Linked DNA regions of Homo sapiens: regions 1 and 2 are each linked to region 3. The links come from fine-mapping of genetic effects on gene expression. A gene starts in region 3. Each other region holds a variant in brackets. All regions are shown on one strand. Distances are from middle to middle.

Region 1 (9,898 bases), 76 kb after region 3:
CCACAGATCCTCTGCCTCAGCCTCTGGCGACTGTAACTGAATTTTGAAGCCCCCCCTGCAAAACCTCCTGCTGAGCTGTGTTACAGTTATGACTTGGTTTGAGAGTTTCTGCTACCTTGTCTATTTCCTGTAAAACATCGTAGCAGGTCAGGTACTGTTTTTTGGTCACTACTAAATTGTCATATTACACGAGGCTATTCTTTACTACTAAAGGAGCTTAATTTTGTTGTTGTTGTTTTTTCCCCAACATTATTCCTTCAATACTCATTAACCAGGCCAGATTGAAAACAGAGCCAGCCTGAGCAATGTGGCGGAATGCCATCTCTACAAAAAAACACAAAAATTAGGCCGGGCACGGTGGTTCACGCCTATAATCCCAGTACTTTGGGAGGTGGAGGTGGGCGGATCACAAGGTCAGGAGATGGAGACTATCCTGGCTAACACGGTGAAACCCCATCTCTAGTAAAAATACAAAAAATTAGCTGGGCATGGTGGCATGCGCCTGTAGTCCCAGCTATTTGGGAGGCTGAGGCAGGAGAATCGCTTGAACCCGGGAGGCGGAGGTTGCAGTGAGCTGAGATCGCGCCACTGCACTCCAGCCTGGGTGACAGAGCAAGACTCCGTCTCAAAAAAATAAATAAATAAATAAAATAAAATAATATGGATATTGGATAGAGCCTTTTTTTTCCCCAAATAAGACAATTAAGTGTTTTATTGTTAATACATTTAGATATATAGCGGCATCCCTGTAGAGGTTTGTTTTACAGTGAGAAAGTTGTGTTTTAAGTTGACCCAACAATGAAAAACAACTATTGGCTGGGCACAGTGGCTCATGCCTGTAATCCCAGCACTTTGGGAGGCCGAGGCGGGTGGATCACGAGATCAGGAGTTCGAGACCAGCCTGGCCAAGATGGGGGAACCCCGGGTCTACTAAAAATACAAAAAATTAGCTGGGCATGGTGGCAGGCACCTGTAATCCCAGCACTTTGGGAGGCTGAGGTGGGTGGATCACCTGAAGTCAGCAGTTTGAGACCAGCCTGGCCAACATGGTGAAACCCCATCTCTACAAAAATACAAAAATTAGCCGGGCGTGGTGGCTCATGCCTGTAATCCCGGCTACTCGGGAGGCTGAGGCGGGAGAATCGCTTGAACCTGGGAGGCAGAGGTCGCAGTGAGCCAAGATTGTGCCATTACACTCCAGCCTGGGTGACAGAGCAAGACTCTGTCTCAAAAAATATATATAAATATAAATAAAAGCAATATAATGCTACTTCACAAAATATTTAAAATATTTTTTTCTCTTTTTTTCTTGACCCAATGCTAGCAGAAAAGCATAAATCTTAAAATATGCATTTCAAAAATTCTATACTATACTTGGGAGGCTGAGGCAGAAGGACTGCTTGAGCCCTAGAGTTCTAGTCCAGCCTAGGCATTATAGTGAGACCCCATCTCTTAAAAAAAAAAAAAAAAAAAAAAAAAAAGAAGCATTGGGCCAGGTGCGGTGGCTCATGCCTGTGATCCCAGCACTTTGGGAGGCTGACGCAGGCTGATCACCTAAGGTCAGGAGTTCGAGATCAGCCTGGCCAACATGGCGAAACCCTGTCTCTACTGAAACCACAAAAATTAGCTGGGCGTGGTGGCAGGTGCCTGTAATCCCAGCTACTCAGGAGGCTGAGGCAGGGAGAATCACTTGATCCTGGGAGACGGAGGTTGCAGTGAGCCAAGATCATACCTCAGTGACAGGGCAAGACTCCATCTCAAAAACAATAAAATAAATAAAATGGAGGCATTGTATTTGGGTTGACCAAGGGAAGCCTGTGTATTCATGGTCTTGCTATTTGAAATAATGGGAAATGAAGATCATAAAATTAACTGGGAGTCCCTACTGTGGGAAAAAGCCTACAATTCTGTTACTCCTGTCTTTTCCTTTCCTGGAGGTGAGGTAAATTACTTTTTCTGTTATATTTCCTTCTCTTAAAAGTTGTGCTAAAAAGATCTTATAATAGCCCAAGACATCCTAATGAAAGAATGTGATTGAGTTGGTGGGAATGTATGTGTTATAGTATAGTCTGTCTCAGTAGGGTGTCATTAGCAGCAGAAATGGAAGGCAAATTAAAACTAGTTCCTTTATCCTTTTCAGACCCTGCAGCCCCTTTAGCATGCTGCTTCTATATGTTTCCTACTCTGAAAAGAAATTAAATGGGAATTGCCTACTCAAAGCTGTTTTAAAATGTCCTAAGTGTCACCTGGATGCTTGTTTGAGGCCTGCCTGCATCCTCCTCTGTGAGCCTGCCTTCCTCTCTTTCCTAAGAACGTGCTTCTGCATATTAGTGAAATAAGTGCCTCTTTCTGTTCTGTCTATAGTTAGCCACCAATTAATAAGATGAGCAGAAATGCTCCCATGCTGAGCACTGTGCTAGGGGCAGGGAAGAAGCTGACACTACTTTATGAGGCAAGCTATGTAAGCGCCTTTTTATCTCCTAGGAGAGGCCCTCAATAGGTTCGGTCTACCCCCTGGAGCCTGTAGCTATTTCAGGCTACTCATTAAAGTCAATCTAGGATATTGCCAAAGCCTTTGAATTCTTTAAGTGAATTGCCTCCACTTGAAGTCAGCTAAAAATAGTTCACTTTCGCTCCCCAGGACGGCCCCCAAGTTACATGAACTACCTGCTAGACTCACACCCCAGCAAAAATATTGATGTCCCCAGCAAGATTAGCTTCCTGTTAAAGATCCAGGACCTGTGAATACATGCGTAACTGCAAGAATGGAAGCAAAGGATGAACCCAAGTTAAAGCCCAGCACAAGAATATGATGTAAGCGCTTTTGGGAAATGCAGAGATTTTCTTTTCTCTTCAAATAATAAATTACATCTAAAAATTAATGAGAGTATAGGCCGGGTGTGGTGGCTTAATGCCTGTAATCCCAGCACTTTCGGAGTCTGGGGCAGGTGGATCACCTGAGGTCAGGAGTTTGAGACCAGCCTGGCCAACATGGTGAAACCCCGTCTCTACTAAAAATACAAAAATTAGCTGGACATAGTGGCACATGCCTGTATTCCCAGCTACTTGGGGAGCTGAGGCAGGAGAATCGCTTCAACCTGGGATGCAGAGGTTGCAGTGAGCCGAGATCACACCATTGCACTCCAGTCTGGGCAACAGATCGAGACACCGTCTCAAATTAAAAACAAAAAAAAGGCCGGGCACGGTGGGTCACACCTGTAATCCCAGCACTTTGGGAGGCTGAGGTGGGCAGACCACGAAGTCAACAGATCGAGACCATCCTGGCTAACGAGGTGAAACCCTGTCTCAGCCGGGCGCAGTGGCTCATGCCTGTAATCCCAGCACTTTGGGAGGCCGAGGCGAGTGGATCACGAGGTCAGGAGATCGAGACCATCCTGGCCAACATGGTGAAACCCCAACTCTACTAAAAATAGAAAAATTAGCTGGGCGTGGTTGTGTGCACCTGTAGTCCCAGCTACTTGGGAGGCTGAGGCAGGAGAATCGCTTGAACCTGGGAGGCGGAGGTTGCAGTGAGCCGAGATTGCACCACTGCACTCCAGCCTGGCAACAGAGCAAGACTCTGTCCCCCCACCCCAAAAAAGAAACCCCGTCTCTACTAAAAATACAAAAATTATCTGGGCATGGTGGCACATGCCTGTAGTCCCAGCTACTCAGGAAACTGAGGCAGGAGAATTGGTTGAACTGGGGAGGCGGAGGTTGCAGTGAGCCAAGATCACACCATTGCACTCCAGCCTGGGCAACAGAGCGAGACGCCATCTAAAAAACAAACAAAAACCCAACATTAATGAGAGTACAAAGCATTATGCCAGACCCATCCATCATAAACTTGAGTACCTGCTATGACTTTCTCTTCTTTCATTTGGAACCCACTGTAGAATCGGTAGCCTCAGAGTAATTGGCTGAAGAGAGTGCATTCTTGGCTGGGCGCGGTGGCTCATGCCTGTAATCCCAACACTTTGGGAAGTCTAGGGGGCTGGATCACTTGAGCTCGGGAGTTTGAGACCAGCCTGGGCAACATGGCAAGTCCCCATCTCTACAAAAAAAATACAGAAATTAGCTGGGTGTGGTGGCACGCGCCTATGACTATAGGAGGTTGCGTGCCTGTAATCCCAGCTACTCACAAAGCTGAGGTGGGAGGATCACTTGAGCATGGGAGGCTGAGGTTGCAGTCCGCTGAGGTCATGCCACTGTGCTCCAGCCTGGGTGACAGAGTGAGACCTGGTTTCAAAAAAAAAAAAAGAGAAGAGTGAGCATTTTGGGGCAGGTAGAGCCAACCCTGATAGAAAGAACTTCATCTTGTGTTTACACAGAAGTGACTGCAAGAAAGGGAACAATTTGTTTCTGAAACTCCTTGTGACATTTATTGTTATAGCAAGTGCTTCTGGTCACCGAGAAATCATATGCATACTGCATCCAGAGACTCAATGAGAAAATTGGGCTCATGGATACTAAACTGTTCCTTAAATGCTCAAAGCTGATAATATACCAATTTTATACCATATATGTTAAAGGCCTCGAGAAAATTAAAGCAGGTTTTTTAGGGGCTAAAGCAAAGTGGCTTAGGATGAATAAAGCAGTAGACTCTACCATTTACTTGGTTTCCATCAGAATGGAAAATGCCAAGGCCAGCACAGTGGTTTTGCCCTGTAATCCCAGCTACTTGAAAGGATGAGGCAGAAGGATCACTTGAGTCCAGGAGTTCCAGACCAGCCTGGGCAACATAGCAAGACCTTGTCTCAAAAAAACAAAACAAAAAAAGGCCAGGCATGGTGGCTTACGCCTGTAATCCCAGCACTTTTGGAGGCCGAGGTGAGCAGATCACCTGAGGTCAGGAGTTCAAGACCAGCCTGGCCAACATGGTGAAACCCCCGTCTCTACTAAAAATACAAAAATTAGCTGGGCATGGTGGCGTGTGGCTGTAGTCCCAGCTACTCAGGAGGCTGAGGCAGGAGAAGCGCTTGAACCCCGGAGGCAGAGGTTGCAATGAGCCAAGATCGCGCCACTGCACTCTAGTCTGGCGACAGAGCGAGACTTTGTCTCAAAAAAAAAAAAAAGAAAAATATATATGTATACAAAAATTAGCCGGGCATGGTGGCACGTGCCTGTAATCCCAGCTACTCGGGAGGCTGAGGCAGGAGAATCACTTGAACCTGGGAGGCGGAGGTTGCAGTGAGCCAAGATTGTGCCATGCACTCCAACATGGAAGACAGGGTGAGACTCTATCTCAAAAAAAAAAAAAAAAAAAAAAAAGAATTAGCCAGACATGGTAGTAGGTGCCTGTAATCGCAGCTACTCAGGAGGCTGAGGCAGGAGAATCACTTTGGACTTGGGAGGCGGAGGCTGCAGTGAGCCGGGATTGTGCCACTCTAGCCTGGGCAACAGAGGAACTCTGTCTCCAAAACAAAAAAAGGAAAATGCCTCACTCATAGCTGCTTTGATATATTGGGGTATGAATCAGAAAACTTTTATTCATACCTCTCTCTGTTGGAGTAGAACATACTTCCTTGCTCTACTGTTTGGGGCTAGGCTGTTAGATGATATGGCCAATGACCTTCCAATGTGCTTCCACAGTTGGGCTTGCTGCTCTTGTTCTGTTTGTTTGTTTGTTTGTTTGTTTGTTTTTGAGACGGAGTCTCGCTGTGTCGCCCAGGCTGGAGTGCAGTGGCGCGATCTCGGCTCACTGCAAACTCCGCCTCCCGGGTTCACGCCATTCTCCTGCCTCAGCCTCCCGAGTAGCTGGGAGTACAGGCGCCCGCCACCGCGCCCAGCTAATTTTTTGTATTTTTAGTAGAGACGGGGTTTCATTGTGTTAGCCAGGATGGTCTCAATCTCCTGACCTCGTGATCCGCCCGCCTCTGCCTCCCAAAGTGCTGGGATTACAGGCATGAGCCACCGTGCCTGGCCATTGCTCTTGTTCTTCTACCATTCATCATAAGAGGAATATACCCTGGCTAGCCTCTAATCCAAGGAGGAGGAGGAAATTTGAGGCAGATTTAATCCTAGTCTGCAGCTAAACCTTGCTGATCCCATCCCGACTCAG[C/T]AGAGTCATAGGCAACTCACAGCCTGAAGCCAGGCAATTTGAGGACTCCTGAGCAAAAAAAACAAAAAAACAAAAAAAAAACAACACGAAAAAACCACTATATTTTGAGGTGGTTTGTTATACAGCATTATTGCAGCAATAGCTGACTAATATACTCCTCTTGTTCCATTTTAGCCCATTTTCCATGCTATAGCCATAGTCAGCTATTTAAATACAATTCTGATGATGTCACATTCTTGTTTAAACCCTGCAATCATTCTCATTACTCTTGGAATAAAAACCAAATGCTTAGCATGACCTATAAAGGCCTGTATGATTTGGGTCTGGCCTCTCTCTCCGTCACTGCACTCCAGCCCCCAGCCTTCTCTCAGTTGTTTGATCTCATCATGTTCTCTTGCCTCCTCATGACCTTTTTTTTATGGGCTGGTCCTACTGTTGGCTTTGCTCTTCTCCTCACCCTTTGATTAGTTAACTCCAACTTATACTTGGAGTGTAAGCTTAAATATTACTTTCCCAAGGAAGCTCTCCTTGCCTGTTAATACAAGGTTAGATTCCCAGTTATATGGTCCCACAGCCCCTTGTATGTCAGCTTTTAGCATTTAATTACAGTTGCAATGAATTATTCAATCATGTAATTCATTGATGTCTCTTACTCACTATGAGGGCAAGGACAATATATGTCTGATTTGCTGCTTTATCCCCTGCCTAGTACACTGCCATGCACCTGGAAAGAACTCAATAAATATTCCTTGAATGAGTGATTGACTGAAGAGACTGGCTATGCTTGATCAAGAGTCAGGAGAAGGTATGAATCAGTGCAACTGAAAGGAATATTAAGAGTTTAGTGTAAGGTAGTGTGAATATTGGAACAAGGTCAGAAAGATGCCCACAAAGGAAACAGTCTTTTGTTAGTCACAGAGCCAGGTTAGTGATAGTAATAATGAGAGTTAGATGTCCAAATATTACTGAATTCAAAATTAAAACTACGATAATAAGAGGAACTGTCATTAGCTGCAGGGAGGTTGACAATGTGGAAAAGTTGGACTGTGATAGAATGACCAATGAGTTCCAAACAAGGGACCATAGTCCTAGAATTTGAAAGTTAGATCAAAACTATGCCTTTTGGCTAGGTGTGGTGGTTCATGCCTGTAATCCCAGCACTTTGGGAGGCTGAGGTGGGAGGATCACTTGAAGCCAGGAGGTAGAGGCTGCAGTGAGCCCTGATCATGCCACTGCACTCCAGCTTGGGGGACAGAACGAGACCCTGTCTCAACAAAACAAAACAAAACCTTATGCCTTTTTGGGGTTGTAACTTTTAAAATAGTGTGTTGGCCGGGCATGGTGGCTCACACCTATAAATCCCAGCACTTTGGGAGGCTGAGGCGGGCAGACACTTGAGGTCAGGAGCTCAAGACCAGCCTGGCCAATATGGTGAAACCCTGTCTCTATGAAAAATACAAAAATTAGCCAGGTGTGGTGGCGGCCGCCTGTAATCCCAGCTACTCAGGAGGCTGAGGCAGGAGAATCACTTGACCTGGGAGGCAGAGGTTGCAGTGAGCTGAGATTGTGCCATTGCACTCCAGCCTGGGTGAGAGAGCAAGACTCCATCTCAAAAAAATAAATAAAAATAAAAAATAAAAATAAAATAGTGTGTCACAGCTTATTGAATAGGAAGAAACCAGGTACCATGAAATCTACAGAGAAAAAGTAAAACTACCAGGAATGACAGGAAATTTGAGATTTGGAATGAAAACCTCCTGAAGGTTTCACCCTTTTTCTTTGATATGCTATCACAGAAGGGAGCCTGTGGAAGCAATTCCATTCTCAAACTCCGTTTTGACAGCAGTGTATACAAATATATAACCTCAGCTCTTGTTTTTTTTTTTTTTTTTTTTTTTTACAGAAAGAAAAGTGGTAGAGAGTTTTTAAAAATTCTTTCGCTATTAAGTATCTTGGTCTATTTCCCTTGGCTCCATAGCTTGTACTAATTAAAATGATTTCAATAGAAGATCCTAGAGTGCAGCTTTCTTTTCTTCCCTCCCTTCCTCCCTCCCTCCCTCTCTCTCTCTCTCTCTCTCTCTTTCTTTTTGCTGCCTGTGTTGGCTCTCATGTTCTTTGCTTAAATAATTAATAATCATTACTATCTATTCAGCAGCATGTGAGAGAAGAGTGTGTAATCTTGGATCCCAGGATATTAACGCTATGCCTGTCCCCGCTGCATAAGCTTTCATGTGAGGCTCTTCATTAGCTAACACCAGGGGATGGATCTGCTGCCCTCAGTCTTTACTGTTTATTATCTATAAAAAAGAGCCCCCTCTGATTCACCAGCTGGGGCAAATACTGCTGATGGGAAGTAATTTCCCAAAAGAACAGTAATGAAAGTGGGGTGGAAATGAGCCACAAAGTTCATTTAGATTTAGCAGTCTCTGCTGGACTGGAGGCAAAATCTAAGTGTCTGTCACACTGCAGCAAGCTAGACCTCAGTGTTACAAATAGCAAAGGATTTCAGAAAAAAAAAAAAAAAAACTAGATGAACATATGAACGAGATATATAAACAGGAGAGTTTATAGTCTAGGGTCAGTTTATTTATTTATTTATTTATTTAGAGAGGGAGTCTTGCTCTTGTTGCCCAGGCTGGAGTGCAATGGCGCAATCTCGACTGACCGCAACCTCTGCCTCCTGGATTCAAGCGATTCTCCTGCCTCAGCCTCCCAAGTAGCTGGGATTACAGACGTGCACCACCACGCCCAGCTAATTTTTGTATTTTTAGAAACGGCATTTCACCATGTCGGCCAGGCTGGTCTCGAACTCCTGACCTCGTGATCCACCTGCCTTGGCCTCCCAAAGTGCTGGGATTACAGGCATGAGCCACGGCGCCTGGCCAGTTTATTTATTTTTTATTATTATTTTTTTTGAGATGGAGTCTCAAAAATATTTTTTATTATTTTTATTTTTATTTTTGAGATGGAGTCTCAGTCTATTGCCCAGGCTGGAGTGCAGTGGCGTGATCTCGGCTCACTGCAACCACTGCTTCCCATGTTCAATTGATTCTCCTGCCTCAGCCTCCCGAGTAGCTGGGATTACAGGTGCACGCCACCACACCTGGCTAATTTCTGAATTTTTGGTAGGGATGGGGTTTCGCCATGTTAGCCAGGCTGATCTCGAACTCCTGAGCTCAGGCAATCCACCCGCCTCAGCCTCCCAAAGTGTTGGGATTACAGGTGTGAGCCACAGTGCCTGGCCTGGGATAAGTTTAAAAATTGCTACTGTTGGCCAGGAGCTGTGGCTCACGCCTGTAATCCCAGCACTTTGGGAGGCTGAGGCGGGTGGATTGCCTGAGCTCAGGAGTTCGAGACCAGCCTGGCCAACATGGCGAAACCCCGTCTCTACTAAAATACAAAAAATGAGCCAGGTGTGGTGGCACACGCCTGTAGTCCCAGCTACTGAAAAGGCTGAAGCAGAAGAATTGCTTGAACCCAGGAGGCTGAGGTTACAGTGAGGCAATATTGTGCCACTGCACTCCAGCCTGGTCGACAGAGCAAGACTCCTTCTCAAAAAAAAAAAAAAAAAATTGCTACTGTCTTACAATGGTGAAGGTCAGGAGCAAAGTTATAGATGTTTAATAATAACAGACTCTACTGCTTGTTTACAACAACAAACTACCGGGCAATCTATATTCAATAAGATGAGGAAAGAATTGCTTGTCAGGAGTGGTCTTTTCAGTCTCATCTGAATACACTGATATCATTGCAACATCTACAGCTATGAAATGCCATTTATATGCCAGGGAGAGTGGGGGAAGACAGTTATTTAATTTTTCCCAGAGGGTACAGGCT
Region 2 (9,898 bases), 30 kb after region 3:
TTGCCTTTTAGTCAACATGATAGTAACATCATAACTTTCCACTAAATAATAGAATATAATTTACAAACCTCTTTTTCATATCAGTTATTCCACTGATCCTTCCATAACCCTAATGAAGTAACATAAGGCATCCAATTTTAGGTTTTTATTAAAATTTCTTTTTTTTTTTTTTGAGACGGGAGTCTCACTCTGTTGCCCAGGCTGGAGTGCATTGGCGCGATCTCAGCTCACTGCAAGCTCCGCCTCCCAGGTTCACACCATTCTTCTGCCTCAGCCTCCCGAGTAGCTGGGATTACAGGTGCCTGCCACCACACCTGCCTAATTTTTTGTATTTTTAGTAGAGACGGGGTTTCATCATGTTAGATGGTCTTCATCTCCTGACCTTGTGATCCGCCTGCCTCAGCTTCCCAAAGTGCTGGGATTACAGGCGTGAGCCACTGCGCCTGGCCTAAAATTTCTTATTCAACTAATTCATATATATAGATCTAGAACATCACAGGGTAAAAAAGGCCCTTAATGAAAACCAACAGCCATCAATCATATTCCACTCATCATCCCTTCCATCCAACCACTTTTAACTTTTTCAGCTATTTCTTCTGGTAGTTTCTACCATAACTCTACATTATGTGCTTATAATGCCATTTCTTAATTTATCCAACTATAACAGTGCCCATTGACTTTATGATCTATAAAGATTAGCCCTCATACCCTTTGACTACCTTCTCCCAAACTGCCCAATATAGTTTATCTCCAGACTATGTTGAAAATCATCTTCTCTCACAACTTCAAAGGCATTACTTCTAGATTCCAATGTTAATAGCATGAAATCCAAAGCCACTTCTAATTCCGGAGCTTTTGAATGTCATTTTTTTCCTGTCTTGAAGCATGTAAGGTCTTCTCTTTGTCCGCAGTGTTCTGAAATTTCACAGTGCTGTCCTCTAGTGCAGCTTTGTTTCTATCCATCATGCTGAGCACAGGGCAAGCAGGTCCTTTCAGTCTGGAAACTTGTAACATTCAGTTCTAGAAAATGTCCTTGAGTTCTTTCATTGATGATTTTCTGCCTCCCATTTTATCTGTTCTTTTGAAATGTCTATTATTTATTTATTTTTTTGAGACAGAGTCTCCCTCTCTCACCCAGGCTGGAGTGCAGTGGCACGATCTCAGCTCACTGCAACCTCCACCTCCCAGGTTCAAGCAATTCTCCTGCCTCAGCCTCCCAAGTAGCTGGGACTACAGGCATGCACCACCACACCCAGATAACTTTTGAATTTTTAGTAGAGATGGGTTTCACCATGTTAGCTAGGCTGGTCTCGAACTCCTGGCCTCAAGTGATCCACCCACCTCAGCCGCCCATGAACCACTGTGCCTGGCCTGAAAATGTCTATTATTTAGAGCTGAAGCATCTAATCATTTTTTCTGTATTTTCCACCTCCTGCCTTCATGCTCTAATTTCCTGATAGCCTCAACTTCATCCTCCAATCTGCCTAGTTTTCACTTCTGCCATTACACTCTTAATTTCCAAGAGCCCTATCCTCTGAATACTCCTGTTTATGGTATTCTACTCATTTCCCCAACAGATTATCATCTCTATTTCTCTACCAATATTCATGATATATTTTAAAGTTTCTTCAAAAAGAGCTGATGGGACAGGCTGAGTGGGTAGGTAGGGCTTGTGCACAGGGGCCATAACTGTTCAGTAACCTGTCAGTACCGCAGGTCTTTTTGCTTGGATTAGTCAGACTCTACAAGAAAGTATCCTACAATTTCCCGCCTATATAACAGAAGAGTTAAGAGCCTATGCTCTGATATTAGGCTGCCTGGCTTCAAATTGCAGCTCCAACGGCATGACCTTGGGCAACCTAACCCTAACTTAACCTTCCTTTTGTGCCAGGTTTTTTCTTTGGCTTTTTTTTTTTTTTTTTGAGACAGAGTCTCGCTCTGTCACCCAGGCTGGGGTGCAGTGGTACGATCTCAGCTCACTGCAACCTCTGCCTTCCAGGTTCAAGCAATCCTCCCTGCTTCAGCCTCCCAAGTAGCTGGGATTACAGGCACGTGCCACCACACCTGGCTAATTTTTTTTTTTTTTTTTTTGAGACAGAGTCTCGCCCTGTCGCCCAGGCTGGAGTGCAGTGGCATGATCTCGACTCACTGCAAGCTCCGCCTACTGGGTTCATGCCATTCTCCTGCCTCAGCCTCCCGAGTAGCTGGGACTATAGGTGCCCGCCACCACTCCTGGCTAATTATTTTTTGTATTTTTAGTACAGACGGGGTTTCACCATGTTAGCCAGGATGGTCTTGATCTCCTGACCTTAAGTGATCCACCTGCCTCGGCCTCCCAGAGTATTGGCATTACAGGCATGAGCCACAGTGCCCACCTTGTCCCAGTTTTTAATCAATCTTAAAAAGGAGAAAATAATACTACCTACCTCCTGATTGTTGTGAGGATTAAATGAAACAATACAGATCCAAGACATAGAACTACATTTGGCAGGCCAGGCGCGGCGGCTCACGCCTGTAATCCCAGCACTTTGGGAGGCCAAGATGGGCAGATCACGAGGTCAGGAGATCGAGACCACCCTGGCTAACATGGTGAAACCCCATCTCTACTAAAAACACAAAAAAATTAGCCAGGCGTGGTGGCGGGCACCTGTAGTCCCAGCTACTCGGGAGGCTGAGGCAGGAGAACGGCGTGAACCCAGGAGGCGGAGCTTGCAGCAAGCCAAGATCGTGCCACTGCACTCCAGCCTGGGCAACAGAGCGAGACTCCATCTCAAAAAAAAACAAAAAAAAAAACTACATTTGGCAAATAGCAAACATGCTATGAATATAGCTATTATGAATGTTGCAAATTATGTTACTAGAATTGTCTTTTGTTTTTTGATTTTTGAGACAGTATCTCACTCTGTTGTCCAGGCTGGAGTACAGTGGTACAATCTCAGCTCACTGCAACCTCCATCTCCCAGGCTCAAGTGATCCTTCGACCTCAGCCTCCCAAGCAGCTGGGACTACAGGCATGCACTGGCTAATTGTTTTTTTGTATTTTTTGTAGAGATGGGGTTTTGCCATATTGCCCAGGCTGGTCTCAAACTCCTGGGCTCAGAATCTCGAAGCGAACCTGTCCACTTTGGCCAATTCCAAAGTGCTGGGCTTACAGGTATGAGCCACTGTGCTCAGCAAGCAATTTTTTTTTT[A/TA]ATCAACAAAACATCAATTTCAAATGGTTTAATTTACAATTGCTATTCTATTCAATCTGTTTTTTTCCCAGAGGATTTTCTTTCTGGAACTCTCCTCCTCTTATCCAGATGAAAAATCTCTATTTGTGAAGCTATTATTCTGAAAACTTCTTCATCTCTTTCCTGGGTTAGATCCCCTATTTATTTCTCGCTTTGCTTTCTAATCTTTCTGGAGCGTATCCTCAAGCGTTTCATGATAAAGGGTTGATCTCTCATACACCCTTTATCATGAAACTACTTGAGAATATGCTCCAGTAGGATTCGTGGGAGATCAAGTAAGTTTGATAGGCGCATGGGAGATCAAGTAAGTTCGACGATGTTGTTATTCTTCCTTCAATTATTAATGGCTTGAGAAAATTCTTTTCAACTCAATAATTTCAAATAATTTTTTTTTTGCGGGGAGCCGGGGGGACTTAGTTTCACTCTGTCACCCAGGCTGGAGTGCAGTGGAAAGATCTTGGCTCACTGCAACCTCTGCCTCCCAGGTTTAAGCAATTCTCCTGCCTCACCCTCCTGAGTAGCTGGGATTATAGATGCCTGCCAACATGCCCAGCTAATTTTTGTATTTTTAGTAGACACAGGGTTTCACCACTTTGGCCAGGTTGGTCTTGAACTCCTGACCTCAGGTGATCTGCCCGCCACGGCCTTTTAAAGTGTTGGGATTACAGGCTCGAGCCACTGTGCCCAGCCCAAATAATTTTTGAAATTATTCTTTTAAGATTATAAAGGCACTTCTTCATTGTTTGCTGGCATTCAACATTGCTGTTGAAAGTCTGAGGTCATTCTAATCCTTGTTCCTTTATGTGTAACCTGCTTTTACTTTCTAGAAGATGTGTAGTATATTATCTTATCCCTAGTACTCTGGAATGCCCAGTGATGACAGTATCTTTTTCATTCATTGTACAGAACCTTTTAAATGCTGCCTACTAGTTTTCAACAAGTTAAAAAAATAACTTTGCTATTGTAAAGGTTTTCAAATAAATATTTGTATATAATTATATATACATACTTTTTTTTTTGAGACTAAGTCTCACTCTGCTGCTCAGGCTGGAGTGCAGTGGCAAAATCTTGGCTCACTGCAATTTCCATCTCCTGGGTTCAAGCGATTCTCCTGCCTCAGCCTCCTGAGTAGCTAAGAATACAGGTGCCTGCCACCATGCCCAGCTAATTTTTGTATTTTTAGTAGAGATGGGGTTTCACCATGTTGGCTAGGCTGGTCTTGAACTCCTGACCTCAGGTGATCTGCCTGCCTCAGCCTCCCACAGCGTTGGGATTACAGGCGTGAGCCACCGCGCCCGGTCAATAATATTTATAAATAATTTCTTTCTGTTTTGAGATGGAGTCTCCCTCTGTTGCCCACGGTGGAGTGCAGTGGCACGATCTCAGCTCACTGCAGCCTCTGCCTCCCAGGTTACAGTGATTCTCCTGCCTCAGCCTCCCAAGTAGCTGGGACTACAGGCATGCCCCACCATGCCTGGCTAATTTTCGTATTTTTGGTAGAGACGGGGTTTCACCATGTTGGCCAGGCTGGTCTCAAACTCCTAACCTCAAGTGATCTGACTGCTTCAGCCTCCCGAAGTGTTGAGATTACAGGCGTGAGCCACCGTGCCCAGCCAAATACTTCTGAATAAAATTTTTTTTTTTGAGAAAGGATCTCGGTGTGTTGCCCAGGCTGGAGTCCAATGGCATGATCACAGGTCACTGCAGCCTCTGCCTCCTAGGCTCAAATGATCTTCCTGCCTCAGCCTCCAAGTAGCTGGGACCACAAGCACATGCCACCACACCTGGCTATATTTTTTAAATCTTTTGCAGAGACAGGGTCTCACTATGTTGTCAAGGTGGGTCTCAGATTCCTGGCCTCCTGCCTCAGCCTCTCAAAGGGATTACAGGCATGAGCTACTGTGCTTGGACTTCAAAATAAATATTCTTGGCCAGGTGCGGTTGCTCACACCTGTAATCCCAGCACTTTGGGAGGTCAAAGCAGAGAGATCGCTTGAGGTCAGGAGTTCAAGACCAGCTTGACCAACATGGTGAAACCCCATCTCTACCAAAAATACAAAAATTAGCGAGTGTGGTGGCGCACACATGTAATCCCAGGTACTTGGGAGGCTGAGGCAGGAGAATCACTTGAACCTGGCAGGCAGGGGTTGCAGTGAGCCGAGACTGCACCACTGCACTCCAGCCTGGGTGACAGAGCGAGACTCTGTCTCAAAATAACAACAATAATATAAAAATTAAAAAGTAATAAATATTCTTATATATCCAAAGAATGTCTTAAAAATAATCATTCTGAGATCTTTTTTTTTTTTTTTTTTTGAGATGGAGTCTCGCTCTGTTGCCAAGCTGGAGTGCAGTGGCACAATCTCAGCTCACTGCAACCTCCGCCTCCTGGGTTCAAGCGATTCTCCTGCCTCAGCCTCCTGAGCATCTGGGACTACAGGCCCACGCCACCACACCCAGCTAATTTTTGTATTTTTAGTAGAGACAGGGTTTCACCATGTTCGCCAGGATGGTCTTGATCTCTTGACCTGGTGATCCACCCGCCTCGGCCTCCCAAAGTGCTGGAATTACAGGCATGAGCCAACACACCTGGCCCTGAGATCTTATAAATATAATTCCAGTGACATAATCTTGCTCAAAGTATTTTCAAAACTTTGGGGAATTTTTTGTAGAGCTTGAAGCTTTTTTTTTTTTTTTTTTTTGTCGCCCAGGTTGGAGTGCAGTGGCACAATCTTGGCTCACTGCAACCTCTACCTCCCTGGCTCAAGTGATTCTCCTGCCTCAGCCTCCCGAGTAGCTGGGACTACAGGTGTGCGTCACCATGCTGGCCAATTTTTTGTATTTTTAGTAGAGATGGGGTTTCACCGTGTTAGCCCAGGATGGTCTTGATCTCCTGACCTCATGATCCGCCTGCCTCGGCTTCCCAAAATGCTGGAATTAGAGGCATGAGCCACCGTGCCTGGCCGCTTGAAGCATTTTTATAATTAACATAGAAATATAGCAAATGACAATAAACACATCAATAGTTATATGCTACTTTTGGTTTACAAAAACAAAAGTATAGAATACTTTTATTTTTTCTTTTTGAGACGGGGTCTTGTTCTGTCACCCAGGCTGGGAAAGCTGGGAGGTTTAGCTTGAACATGGCTCACTGCAGCCACGATCTCCTGGGCTCAAGGATCCTCCTGCCTCAGCTACTCGTGTAGCTGGGACTGCAGGCACACATCACCACACCCAGCTTATCTTTCTATTTTTTTGTAGAGAAGGAGTCTCATTTTGTTGCCCAGGCTCTGCTTCCCACTTTGGGAAGTGGAGGTGGGAGGATTGCTTGAGCCCAGGATTTCAAGACCAAGGGCTCAAGTGATCCTCCCACCTACACTTCTCAAAGTGCTGGGATTACAGGTGTGAACCACCACACCTGGCTTTATAAAAATACTTTCGGCCCGGTGTGGTAGCTCACACCTGTAATCCCTGCACTTTGGGAGGCCGAGGTAGGTGGGTCACTTGAGGCCAGGAGTTTGAGACCAGCCTGGCCAACATGGTGAAATCCCATCCCTACCAAAAGTATAAAAATTAGCCAGGTGTGGTGGCTGGTGCCTGTAATCCCAGCTACTTGGGAGGCTGAGGCACAAGAATTACTTGAACCCAGGAGGCAGAGGTTGCAGTGAGCTGAGATCACGCCTCAGCACTCCAGCCTGAGTGATAGGGTGAGACTCTGTCTCAAAAATAAAATAAAATAAAATAAAATTCATACACATTGTCATTTGATTCTCACTGCAAAAAAATAACTTGGCCAAAAGCAATTAGCATGTTCCAAATGATAATCTATAGTTAATTCAGTTTTTCCAGTTAATCTTCGACCTTTGGATATTTAGGTTTTTCTAATTTTTCACTATTACAAACATCTCAAAAAAGAAATAATGGGGGCCAGATGCGGTGGCTCACGCCTGTAATCCCAGCACTTTGGGAGGCTGAGGTGGGCGGATCACGAGGTCAGAAGTTCGAGACCAGCCTGGCCAACATGGTGAAACCGTCTCTACTAAAAAATACAAAAATTCGCTGGGCGTGGTGGTGTGCGCCTGTAATCCCAGGTACTCGGGAGGCTGAGGCAGGATAATTGTTTGAACCCGGGAGATGGAGGTTGCAGTGAGCCTAGATTGTGCCACTGCACTCCAGACTGGGGGACACAGCAAGACGCCATCTTGGAAAAAAAAAAAAAGAAATAGTGGGTTAAAAATAAATCTGGAAATTAAGGCTATGCAATGCCTCACTGTGTACATCTAAGACTTGGCAATACTGAAAACACCTGTGTCAAGACTGTTCATTTGTAGCCCAATAGTAGTCAGACATAACTGCTAGGCTGACCAACTTGCTTTTGTTCAGATTTTATGCTGTCAGTGGACAAAGCTAGTGAATGGCACATCAGGACTAGAATTTAGGTTTCCTGACTCTTAAGCTCTCTCACCAAGAAGAAAAATGGGAGATAAACTGGAACAGTGTAGATTGGAATTGAGCCCTCTCATAGCTAAGGAGTTGAGAAATATAAACTTTAACCCCTTGGACAATGGGAACCTTTGAAGGTTTCTGAGCAAAGGAGTGACAACAGGGTTCTCAAAATAATATGACATGGGTGTTAAAAACCCTTATTTGGGGCCAGGCACGGTGGCTCACACCTGTAATCCCAGCACTTTGGGAGGCCGAGACGGGCGGATCACGAGGTCAGGAGATCGAGACCATCCTGGCTAAAACGGTGAAACCCTGTCTCTACTAAAAATACAAAAAATTAGCCGGGTGTGTTGGCAGGCACCTGTAGTCCCAGCTACTCGGGAGGCTGAGGCGGGAGAATGGCGTGAACCCGGGAGGCGGAGCTTGCAGTGAGCCGAGATCGCGCCACTGCACTCCAGCCTGGGCTACAGAGCAAGACTCCGTCTCAAAAAAAAAAAAAAAAAAAAAACCCTTATTTGGTTGTGTGATCTTGATTTGATCTCTTAACTCTGTTTTTAGGTTCTTTATCTGTAAAATGGAGATAATGAGAAGGCCAATCTCAGTTACTTTGAGGATTAATTCTGAGGATAAACATGGCAAGGGGCTTAGCATATTGCCTGGCACAGTGTTAAAATGAATGGTAGCTGTTATTTTTTTTTTTTTTTCAGACGGAGTCTCGCTCTGTCGCCCAGGCTGGAGTGCAGTGGCGCGATCTCGGCTCACTGCAAGCTCCGCCTCCCGGGTTCACGCCATTCTCCTGCCTCAGCCTCCCAAGTAGCTGGGACTGCAGGCGCCCACCACTACGCCGGGCTAATTTTTTGTATTTTTAGTAGAGACGGGGTTTCACCATGTTAGCCAGGATGGTCTCAATCTCCTGACCTCGTGATCCGCCTGCCTCAGCCTCCAAAAGTGCTGGGATTATAGGCGTGAGCCACCGCGCCCGGCGGCAGCTGTTATTTTTGAGGAAAGTGATGTTACTGATGACAGTGATGATTTGGAATTCATTGGACGGGATGAAACAAGATAGGAAAAGCAGCCACAAATAGTCAGTGGAAATGGAAGTAAGAAAGATACTTGGGGTCCGGGCGCGGTAGGTCATGCCTGTAATCCCAGCATTTTGGGAGGGCGAGGCAGGTGGATCACCTGTGGTTGGGAGTTCGAGACTAGCCTGACCAACATGGAGAAACCCCGTCTCTACTAAAAATACAAAATTAGCCAGGTATGGTGGCACATGCCCATAATCCCAGCTACTTGGGAGGCTGAGGCAGAACTACTTGAACCTGGGAGGTGGAGGTTGCGGCGAGCCGAGATCATGCCATTGCACTCCAACCTGGGCAACAAGAGCAAAACTCCGTCTCAAAAAATATATATATACTTGGGGCCTTCTCGAAAGAAGGCACAGTGGTGGGATCACAGGGACACTGCTAACTGTTCTTAGGGAATAACGGAGAAGGTTCAGTAGTAGTCACTAGGGCATTAGAAAAAAATGAGTTCATCACTAAGAATGATTTAAATGTCTTACCTTTCAGTTACCATCAAAAGTATCATACCATGATTCACTTGGGGCTTGTACCCATACCCTTTATCCCTACCCCAGGCCCTCGATACCCATAAAAACTACCAGTGGTATTATGGGAGGGGGTGATGAATGCGACATGCCCATAGTACCCTGAGGCCTACAGAGAAATCAGGGTATCCACCAGCCACTGAGCATGCTCTCAAAGACTGGTGGAGGGGCTGGGTTCAGCTGGCACCAGACAGACAGCTGGCGTCAGACAACCCCGCCCATCTCAGGTTTCAGTTACTATTCCCAAGAGAGAGATGGAAGAAGGGTAAGGCTGAGTTCGAGAGGTGTGGGTCCTCAAGGGAGCTGCTGCAGTTCTGAAGCAGACTTCAGGGAAGGATGGAACAAACAGCTTTTAGCCCTACACTTGGGGATAAGCTTAGGTTTCCAGGTGATGCCCAAGGGATGTGGAAGGGCTGGAGGAAGCTGATCTCTCAGCATAAAGGAAGCTGTCTTTCTCCCTTGTTACATCTATAACTTGTCTCAAATATCCAGCTCACAGTTCCACTAACTGTTAACAAAGCCAACTCGAGCTCACACCAGACTCTAAACCTTCAGAGCCACACAAGAGTTAAGGTTACAGTGAGCTCCTATTGCTGCCAAAAGTGGGTTTTAAAGA
Region 3 (9,898 bases):
CTGCCTTTCTTCTCACTGCGGTTTGGCAAATGCTGGGAGAGAGTGATGCCAGAGCCCGGGTGGGAGCTGCAGGATCAGTTCCTGAACACTAGTTTTTAGACAAAAGGGAGTGATTTTCTGCCCTCAAATGAGATGCCAGCTGGAGCACATCATGAGATGTGTGCTGTGTATTTGCTGGTGACTTATTTGACCCTTAGCATCACTGCCAACAGGCATTTACCTCACTTCTACTACTAAAAAAGAGGCAATCAGCCAGGCACGGTAGCTCACGCCTGTAATCCCAGCACTTTGGGAGGCCAAGGCGGGTGGATCACGAGGTCAGGAGTTCAAGACCAGCCTGGCCAAGATGGTAAAACTCCGTCTCTATTAAAAATACAAAAATTAGCCAGGAGAGGTGGTGGGCACCTGTAATACCAGCTACTCAGGAGGCTGAAGCAGGAGAATTGCTTGAACTCAGGAGGCAGAGGTTGCAGTGAGCCGAGATCGCACCACTGCACTCTAGCCTGGGCAACAGAGAGAGACTCCATCTCAACAACAACAACAAAAAAAGAGGCGATCATTTATTATTTTCCTAGACCCTACAGTTTAAAGATCTAAGTACTATATCTGTGATTTTTTATGGAATGTATTTTCCTTACATGTACATGAACAAGCATATAAATTTAAAGTTAATTATATATTCAAGTAAATCAGTAAAATTCAAGATTGCTAGCTGAATTTTTTTTTTTGTCTTATTGACTTATTTTTTTTGAGACCAAGTCTCATGCTGTTGCCCAGGCTAGAGTGCAGTGTCGTGATCTGGGCTCACTGCAACCTCCACCTCTCAGGTTCAAGCGATTCTCGTGCCTCAGCCTCCCAATTAGCTGGGACTACAGGCATGAGCCACCATGCCTAGCTAATTTTTGTACTTTTAGTAGAGATGGGGTATTTCACCATGTTGGCCAGGCTGGTCTCAAACTCCTGACTTCAGGTGATCCACCCACCTCGGCCTCCCAAAGTGCTGGGATTATAGGCGTGAGCCACCTGCCCAGTCTGCTAGCTTAATTATTTTTTTTCAAGATGGAGTCTTGCTTTGTCTCCCTGGCTAGAGTGCAATGGCGCAATCTCGGCTCACTGCAACCTCCACCTTCTGGGTTCAAGCAATTCTCCTGCTTCAGCCTCACAAGTAGCGGGATTACAGGTGCATGCCATCATGCCCAGCTAATTTTTTGTATTTTTAGTAGAGGTGGGGCTTCACCATGTTGGCCAGGCTGGTCTTGAACTCCTGACCTCATGATCCACCTGCCTCAGCATCCCAAAGTGCTGGGATTACAGGTGTGAGCCACTGCACCCAGACCAACTTAATTCTTAAGATAAAATGTATTATAGTATTATGGCTGGGCACAGTGGCTCACACCGAGATCGCGCCACTGCACTCCAGCCTAGGCAATAGAGCCAGACTCCATCTAAAAAAAAAAAAAAAAAAAAAAGAGTATTACAGTATTATGTAAACAACCACTCTAGTGCTATAAGTGTGACCTAAGTACTTAGCACTTTAACAAATTGATGTAAGTACTTAGTACTTTAACAAATTAGATCTGAAGTTGAAACACAGTTGCTGGTTTTCAGAAAACCGTTCTGGATTTAAGGGTTTCTGGATAGGCGACCTCAGAACATGGCACCTTATGTCCATTTTCACGCTGCTGATAAAGACATATCCAAGAGTGGGTAACTTATTATTATTATTATTTTAGACAGAGTTTCACTCTTGTTGCCCAGGCTGGAGTGCAATGGCACCATCTCAGCTCACTGCAACCTCTGCCTCCTAGGTTCAAGTGATTCTCCTGCCTCAGCCTCCCAAAGTAGCTGGGATTACAGGCGCCCGCCACCATGCCCAGCTAATTTCTTTTTGGTATTTTTAGTTGAGACGGGGTTTCACCATGTTGGCCAGGCTGGTCTTGAACTCCTGACCTCAGTTGATCCACCCGCCTCAGCCTCCCAAAGTGCTGGGATTACAGGCGTGAGCCACCGAGCCTGGCAAGAGTGGGTAACTTATAAAGAAAAAGAGGTTTAACTGCCGCAGTTCCACGTGGCTGGGGAAGCCTCAAAATCATGGCAGAAGGCAAAAGGCACGTCTTACATGGTGGCAGGCAAGAGAGAATGAGAGCCAAATGAAAGGGGAAACCCCTTGTAAAACCATCAAATCTCATGAGACATTCACTACCACCAGAACAGTGTGGGGAAAACTACCCCATGATTCAATTACCTCTCCTCAGGTCCCTCCCACAACACATGAGAATTATGGGAACTACAACTCCCATGAGATTTGGGTGGGGACACAGCCAAACCATATCACTTGGCATTTGAGGAAATAACAGTAGCAGGAAGGTCCCCCTCAGACCTTCTTTTGCCCCTCTTCCCTGAAGCAGGCCATAAAAGAATTCTCTGCTCTTCCTCTGAAGAAGATCATAAGACTCTCAAGTGAGAGGTGCTTTTCCCATACCCAGAGGAACACTCTTATCTCTTGGGATATGAAAGAGCAAAATAAATGCCCCTTTATCAACTAAGATGGGCCCTAAGGTTAAGAAAACAAAAATTGGCCGGTGCGGTGCCTCACGCCTGTAATCCCAGCACTTTGGGAGGCCAAGGTGGGCAGATCACGAGGGCAGATGTTCGAGACCAGCCTGGCCAACATGGTGAAACCCCGTTTCTACTAAAAAATACAAAAATTAGCTGGGCGTGGTGGCGGGCGCCTATAGTCCCAGCTACTCGGAGAGGCTGAGGCAGGAAAATGGCGTGAACCCGGTAGGCGGAGCTTGCAGTGAGCCGAGATCGTACTACTGCACTCCAGCCTGGGCAACAGAGCGAGACTCCGTCTCAAAAAAAAAAAAAAAAAAGAAAGAAAGAAAGAAAGAAAAAAAGAAAACAAAAATTGCCCACGGGTCAAGGGTTCAGGGATTGGCCGGCACGGCAACTTCCCAGATTCCTAAAGCTACAAGAAAAACTACACTCGTGGCAGGGCGCGTGGCTCACACCTGTAATCCCAGCACTTTGGGAGGCCAAGGCGGGTGGATCACCTGAGGTCAGGAGTTGGACACCAGCCTGACCAATATAGTGAAACCCCTTCTCTACTAAAAGTACAAAATTAGCCGGACGTGGTGGCTGGCGCACGCGTGTAATCCCAGCTACTTGGAAGGCTGTGGCAGGAGAATCGCTTGAACCGAGGAGGCGGAGGTTGCAGTGAGTTGAGAGTCCGCGCACCGTTGGCACCGCGATGAGGGCGGGAAGCACAGCGCGGGGCCCCCGGGAGCAAGAACGCCGCGGGCACCCAGCCCTCGTGGGAGGCGGCGGTCGGGGCACGCCCCGGGCCGAACCAGGCTCTGCACTCCCGCGGGTGCCCGGACCTGAAGGGTCGTCCGCTGGCTCCAGGATTCTGCATCCCCGACCCGCTCCGGGTGCGCCGAGGCTGCTGGGACTTCGCTGCGGGAGCGCGCCCGGGGCCCCGGGGCCTGCACGGAAGGCGGCTGCGGGGAGGGTGGCCGGGCAGAGGCTTCGGTCCCGGGCGCCCCCTCCCCGGCCGGACCCCCCTCCCCGGCCGGACCCCGAGTCTGCAGTCTCCGCAGGTGTGCCGCGTGCGGGTAGAGACGGACGTGGGGCTGGACGCGGGCACTCAGGGACGGACGGGTGGGGGACCGACGGCCGGGGGAACAGAGGGCGTGGAGAGACGGCCGTGGGGACAGGGGGGCGGGTGGGCGCGGGAAAGGACGGACTGGGGGACTGAAGGACTGGGGTCCCGCGCCCGATGGACGGAGGCGCCAAGGACCAGCGGACTCGGGGGCGACTGGGCGACGGTGGGCGCAGCAGGGCGGAGGCACGGACAGAGGACGTACCTACAGGCCCGGCCCGGCCGCCTTCGCCTGATCCCGAGACCCACGGCGAGCCTCGCGCCGCCGCCGCCTCCCCTCCGCCTTACCTAGGGCCAGCATGTAGCCCTCGAAGTTGTCGCTGCTGAGCAGGGTCCAAGTACCGCTGAGGTCGGCGGGCATGGTCGGGGATCGCGGGACAAACCCGGCGGGCGGCCGGAGGCTCGGGCCGGGACCTATAAACCAGGCGGGGCGGGGCAGGGGGGTGGGGCCGCGCGCGGGAGGAGCAGGTGGGGCCGCGTGGGTCCCACTCACCCCTAGAAGCCGCTGCGCTCCCGGCCGCCTCAGCCCGGTGCTCCTGGCTCTGCCCACCGCGCGGCAGCTTCCCCCTTTCCTTGGGGCTTCCTCTCCTACTGCTTTCTCATGTCCCAGACTGTTTCGGGCCACATTTTCTTCCCTGCTTATATGTTAATGACCCAGGGATGATCTTCAAACTCATGGCATTGAATATTGTCAGCTTCAATAACAATATACCTCTCAACGTAACTCTCATGGTCTCAATAAATAGGAGTTTATTTTTCTTAACAAGGAGTCCTGAGAGAAGTGATTGCTGGTGATGATTCGCACCTAGGAATCACAGTGATTCGCACCTCGGTAACGCCGCAGCTTCGTCTCTGTGACTCTGGTGGCCTTTTATTCCTGCTTGTTACCTCCTGGTCATGAGCTGGCAGCTGGGTTCCCAGCCAGGACATCCACATTCAAGGTAGGGAAGAGGGAAAGCACCAAAGGTCAGTATCCCTGCAGCACAAACCTCCCCATCTCCTATAAGTCTGGATAGTTGGAAAAAAGAAAAGAAATTACCCAGCAGGTTTCTGTGTACATTTCATTAGCCAAAACTGTATCAATGCCACTTCTAACTGCAAGGGGGCCTGGGGATTCTAGTCTGCAGCATTTAGCCTCAGAGCAGAGAAAAGCAAAGGAGAAGGGGTGGGAATATGGGCTAACCTACAACATTAGCCACAAACACCGCCTAGATATGCTGGCTCCAAGACTGACTTATTGATTTTATTTTTATTTTTTTTCTTTTGAGACAGAGTCTCACTCTTTCTTTTTTCTTTTTTTTTTTTTTTTTGAGACGGAGTCTCGCTCTGTGCCCAGGCTGGAGTGCAGTGGAGAGATCTCGGCTCACTGCAAGCTCCGCCTCCGGGGTTCACGCCATTCTCCTGCCTCAGCCTCCCGAGTAGCTGGGACTACAGGCGCCCGCCAACACGCCCGGCTAACTTTTTATATTTTTATTAGAGACGGGGTTTCACCGTGTTAGCCAGGATGGTCTCGATCTCATGACCTTGTGATCCGCCCGCCTTGGCCTCCCAAAGTGCTGGGATTACAGGCCTGAGCCACTGCGCCCGGCAGAGAGGGAGTCTCACTCTATCGCCCCGGGCTGGAGGGCAGTGGTTCCATCTCGGCTCACTGCAACCTCCGCCTCCCAGGTTCAAGTGATTCTCCTGCCTCAGCCTCCCGAGTAGCTGGGATCACAGGTGCCCATCACCATGCCCAACTAATTTTTTGTATTTTTAGTGGAGATGGGGGTTTCATCATGTTGGCTAGGCTGGTCTTGAGCTCCTGACCTCGTGATTCGCCTGCCTCAGCCTCCCAAAGTGCTGGGATTATAGGTGTGAGCCACCGCACCCGCGGTATTTATTTTTTCATTTATTCTTTTTATTTTATTTTATTCTATTTTATTTTTTGAGACAGACTCTCACTCTGTCGCCTAGGCTGGAGTGCAATGGTGCAATCTTGGCTCACTGCAACCTCCGCCTCTTGGGTTCAAGCAACTCTCCTGCCTCAGCCTCCTGAGTAGCTGGGATTACAGGTACCTGCCACCATGCCTGGCTAATTTTTATATATTTTAGAAGAGGTGGAGTTTCACCATGTTGGCCAGGTAGGTCTCGAACTCCCAACCTTAAAAGATCCACCCACCTAAGCTTCCCAAAGTGCTGGAATTACAGGCATGAGCCACCACACCCAGACTGACTATTTTTTGAGATAGAGTCTTGCTCTGTTGCCTAGGCTGGAGTGCAGTGGTATGATCATGGTTCACTGTAGCCTCAACCTCCTGAGTTCAAGTGATCTTCCTGCCTCAGCCTTCTAAGTAGCTACAACTACAGGCATGTGCCACCATGCCTGACTAATTTTTTTAATTTTTTATAGAGATGGAGTATCCCTGTGTTGCCGGCGGTTGGTCTCAAACTCCTAGGCTCAAGCAACCCTCCAACCTTGGCCTCCCAAAGTGCTGGGATTACAGGTGTAAGCCACTGTGTCCAGCTCAAGATTTATATGTCAATTTATGACCTCTCCCATGAGTTCCAGACTCAAATATAATAAAAGCTAGCAGTCCGTGCATGGTAGCTCACACCTGTAATCCCAGCACTTTGGGAGACCGAGGTGGGTGGATCACCTGAGGTCAGGAGTTTGAGACCAGCCTGGTCAACATGGTGAAACCCCATCTCTACTAAAAATACAAAAAATTGGACAGGCGCAGTGGCTCAAGCCTGTAATCCCAGCACTTTGGGAGGCTGAGGCGGGCAGATCACGAGGTCAGGAGATCAAGACCTTCCTGGCTAACATGGTGAAACCCTGTCTCTACTAAAAATACAAAAAAATTAGCCGGGCGTGGTGGCGGGCACCTGTAGTCCCAGCTACTCGGGAGGCTGAGGCAGGAGAATGCGTGAACCCAGGAGGCGGAGCTTGCAGTGAGCCGAGATCGCGCCATTGCACTCCAGCCTGGGGGACAGAGCAAGACTCCGTCTCAAAAAAAAAAAAAAATACAAAAAATACAAAAAATTAGCCAGGCATGGTGGCGGGCACCTGTAATCCCAGCTACGTGGGAGGCTGAGGCAGGAGAATCGCTTGAACCCAGGAGGCAGAGGTTGCAGTGAGCCAAGACCGTGCCATTGCACTCCAGCCTGGGCAACACGAGCCAAACTCTGTCTCAAAAATAATAAAATAAAAAATAAAAGCTAACATTTGGCTGGGGACAGTGGCTCACGTTCGTAATCCCAGCACTTTGGGAGGCTGAGATGGGTGGATTGCCTGAGGTCAGGAGTTTGAGACAAGCCTGGCTAACATGGTGAAACCCCGTCTCTACTAAAAAAATACAAAAGTTAGTCAGGTGTGGTGGCACACGTCTGTAGTCTCAGCTCCTGGAGAGGCTGAGGCAGGAGAATCACTTGAACCCGGGAGGCAGAGGTTGCAGTGAGCAGAGATTGTACCATTGCACTCCAGCCTGGGAGACGGAGTGATTCTGTTGCAAAAAAAAAAAAAAAAAAAAAAAAAAAAAGCTAACATTTGTTGAGTGCTATGTGTATTATTATTTGTTGCAAAATCCTACTTCTCCAATAGTTATTTTATTAACTCCCTTTGACAGAGCTAAAAACTGAGGCATAGAGAGGTTAACTAACTTGCCCGAGGTCATATAGTTGGCAGAGTCTGGATTCAAACCCAGGTAACCTGCCTGCACGTTCAGTGCCACCTCTCGCCTCCTACTTGACGTCTCCACTTGGCTATCTTAAAGGCATCTGAAACTTGACGCAGCTAAGCTAGAAAGTGTAAGAACAAAATTTTTTCCAGCTCTCCTTATCTCCATACATTCCATTAGGCCCCTGGATGCTCAAGCTAAGAATCCAGTAGATTTGTGAATTTCCATCTTCTCTGCTGGCCAAAATCCAGTCCCTCAGCAAGTCCTCTTGGTTCTACCATCTTAACCCAAGTCCCCATCATCTCTTGCCAGGACCACTTATAAAAATCTTTCATCTGGACCTGCTGCTTCCCTTCTGAGTCCCTCAAAACAATTCTCCATACGCAGCCCCGGCAAGCTTTTAAGGAATGTAATTCAGATCTTCTCACTCCTTGCTTACAGCCCTTCAGTATTGTCCTGTCTTTCTTTTTTCTTTTCTTTTTTTTTTTGAGATGGGGTGTTGTTCTGTTGCCCAGGCTGGAGTGCAGTGGCACAGTCTTGGCTCACTGCAACCTCCACCTCCTGAATTCAAGCAATTCTGTCTCAGCCTCCCGAGTAGCTGGGACTACAAGCGCATGCCACTACACCCGGCCAATTTTTATATTTTTAGTAGTGATGAGGTTTCACCGTATCGGTCAGGCTGATCTCGAACTCCTGACCTCAGGTGATCCACCCACCTAGGCCTCCTGAAGTGCTGGAATTACAGGTGCGAGCCACCGCTCCTGGCCTGTCCTGTTTTTCTTAAAAGGAAATTTGCACTCTCTCTCATGGTTAGGTTCACAAAGTCCTTCCTGGTTTGGCTCCTGGCTACTCCTCCACCAGCAGTACATCCTGTCTCCCCCAACTCAGTTCCTCTAATCACATCACACCCTTTCCTTCAGAGTCTTGGTATTTGGTGTCTCCTCTTTCTGAGATGTTTTTCCTCCTAGTTTTTGCCTGGTTAGCTCCTTTGGCTTCCAGCTCAAAAGTCACTATTAGGGGTACAGTCTTTTCTTTTCTTTTTCTTCTTTTTTGAGACCAAGTCTCGCTTTGTTGCCCAGGCTGGAGTGCATTGGTGCGATCTCCACTCACTGCAAGCTCCGCCTCCTGGGTTCACACCATTCTCCTGCCTCAGCCTCCTGAGTAGCTGGGACTACAGGCACCCGCCACCACACCCAGCTAATTTTTTGTATTTTTTAGTAGAGATGGGGTTTCACTGTGTTAGCCAGGAAGGTCTCGATCTCCTGACCTTGTGATCCACCCACCTCGGCCTCCCAAAGTGCTGGGATTACAGGCGTGAGCCACCACGCCCGGCCATAGGGGTACAGTCTTTTCTAGTCATGGTCTCCATGGAGAGGAATTGTCCCTAAACGCCCCTGGCCTCTGCTCATCCTCTTAGGATTGGAACAACTAGGACTGAAGGAGTGCCTGGGACATGGAACTCTTGCTGCTAACATTGGAAAAGCCCCTGGTAAACTGGGATGAATGCTTGCTCTCGGGGCAACAGCCACTGAACCGTTTTCGTCAACTAGGTAGAGGTAATCTATAAAAAAATTATAATCCTAGGCTGGGCGTGGTGGCACATGCCTGTAATCCCAGCATTTTGGGGCCGAGGAGGGAGGATCATTTGAGCCCAGGATTTTGAGATCAGCCTGGGCAAGATGGCAATGTCCTGTCTCTATAAAAAATAAAAAAACTAGCTGGGTGTGGTGGTATGCACCTGTAGTCCCAGCTACTCGGGAGACTGAGGTGGGACGATCGCTTGAACCTGGGAGGTCGAGGCTGCAGTCAGCCGTGATGGAACCATTGCACTCCAGCCTGAATGACAGACTGAGACCGTCTCAAAAAAAAAAAAAAATCTAAACCTAAAGTATTTATTTACTTACTTATTTATTTAGAGACAGAGTCTCGCTTTGTCACCCAGGCTGGAGTGGGGTGGCTCAACCTCTGCCTCCCAGGTTTAAGAAATTCTCCTGCCTCAGCCTCTAGAGTAGCTGGGATTACAGGCGTGAGGCACTGTGCTCAGCCCTTTTGTTGCTTTTTTTTTTCGTCTTATTTTTCAGTTGGTTTAGAATGTGGACAGAAAAGTACTTGGATATCTTCAAGAACTTGAGAGCCATCTTCTCAGAACAGCCTTCCTATATGCTCCTAATACACACTTACTCCACATCACATCTCTGCTTACGTCCTTTATCATTATTATAATCCATAATTATCTTTTTTCTTTTTTATTGACTGCCTTTTCCATGAAGCTTTCCAGGGCAGAGCCCATGTTGATTTCATTCACCACTCCTGTATCTCCAGGGTCTAGCACAGTGCCTGGTAAGTACTCAATAAATGTTTGTTGACTGACTGACTGACTGGCTATGACCTTTTCCAAGGGAGAAATGCCATTTTCATTGAGAAGCCAGAGTGACATCACCTTGCCCATAATGAGCTAGCTGTTGATTCTCATAACTGTAAGACATAGATTCCAGGCTTGGTGCGGTGGCTCACGCCTGTAATCCCAGCACTTTGGGAGGCTGAGTTAGGAAGGTCACTTGAGGTCAAGAGTTCAAGA

Which allele goes with the higher level. Positions count from the first base shown, and alleles are read on the strand shown. Sizes are in standard deviations (SD) of each study's normalised expression.
With allele C in place of T in region 1, the expression in breast of the gene that starts at base 4,056 in region 3 is higher (small effect, 0.21 SD a copy in GTEx).
With allele TA in place of A in region 2, the expression in subcutaneous fat of the gene that starts at base 4,056 in region 3 is lower (large effect, 1.4 SD a copy in TwinsUK).

The links. PIP is the estimated chance that this variant, and not a neighbour inherited with it, causes the effect.
Region 1: its variant is the best candidate, but not a certain one, in a credible set for the expression of RBP7 in breast (GTEx, PIP 0.68).
Region 2: its variant is the best candidate, but not a certain one, in a credible set for the expression of RBP7 in subcutaneous fat (TwinsUK, PIP 0.50).

The regions. Positions count from the first base shown.
Region 1 is chr1:9,915,102-9,924,999 of GRCh38, reverse strand. It overlaps a transcript of LZIC not described here. Among named protein-coding and RNA genes, the nearest start is that of CTNNBIP1, 9.8 kb to the right of the region's middle. The variant C/T (reference allele first, on the strand shown) is at 6,062.
Region 2 is chr1:9,960,964-9,970,861 of GRCh38, reverse strand. All of the region lies in intron 1 of NMNAT1 (nicotinamide nucleotide adenylyltransferase 1), which reads right to left. MIR5697 (microRNA 5697) reads right to left here and starts at 3,481; the gene lies at 3,404-3,481. The variant A/TA (reference allele first, on the strand shown) is at 3,192.
Region 3 is chr1:9,991,386-10,001,283 of GRCh38, reverse strand. It overlaps RBP7 (retinol binding protein 7), which reads right to left and starts at 4,056. Exons shown (of 4, transcript NM_052960.3): 1 at 3,953-4,056. The coding sequence starts at 4,025. LOC124903840 (basic salivary proline-rich protein 2-like) reads left to right here and starts at 3,195. Exons shown (of 2, transcript XM_047436754.1): 1 at 3,195-3,602; 2 at 4,432-4,565. The coding sequence starts at 3,254. The coding sequence ends at 4,565. It also overlaps a transcript of NMNAT1 not described here. RefSeq lists silencers at 2,107-2,307, 9,719-9,898.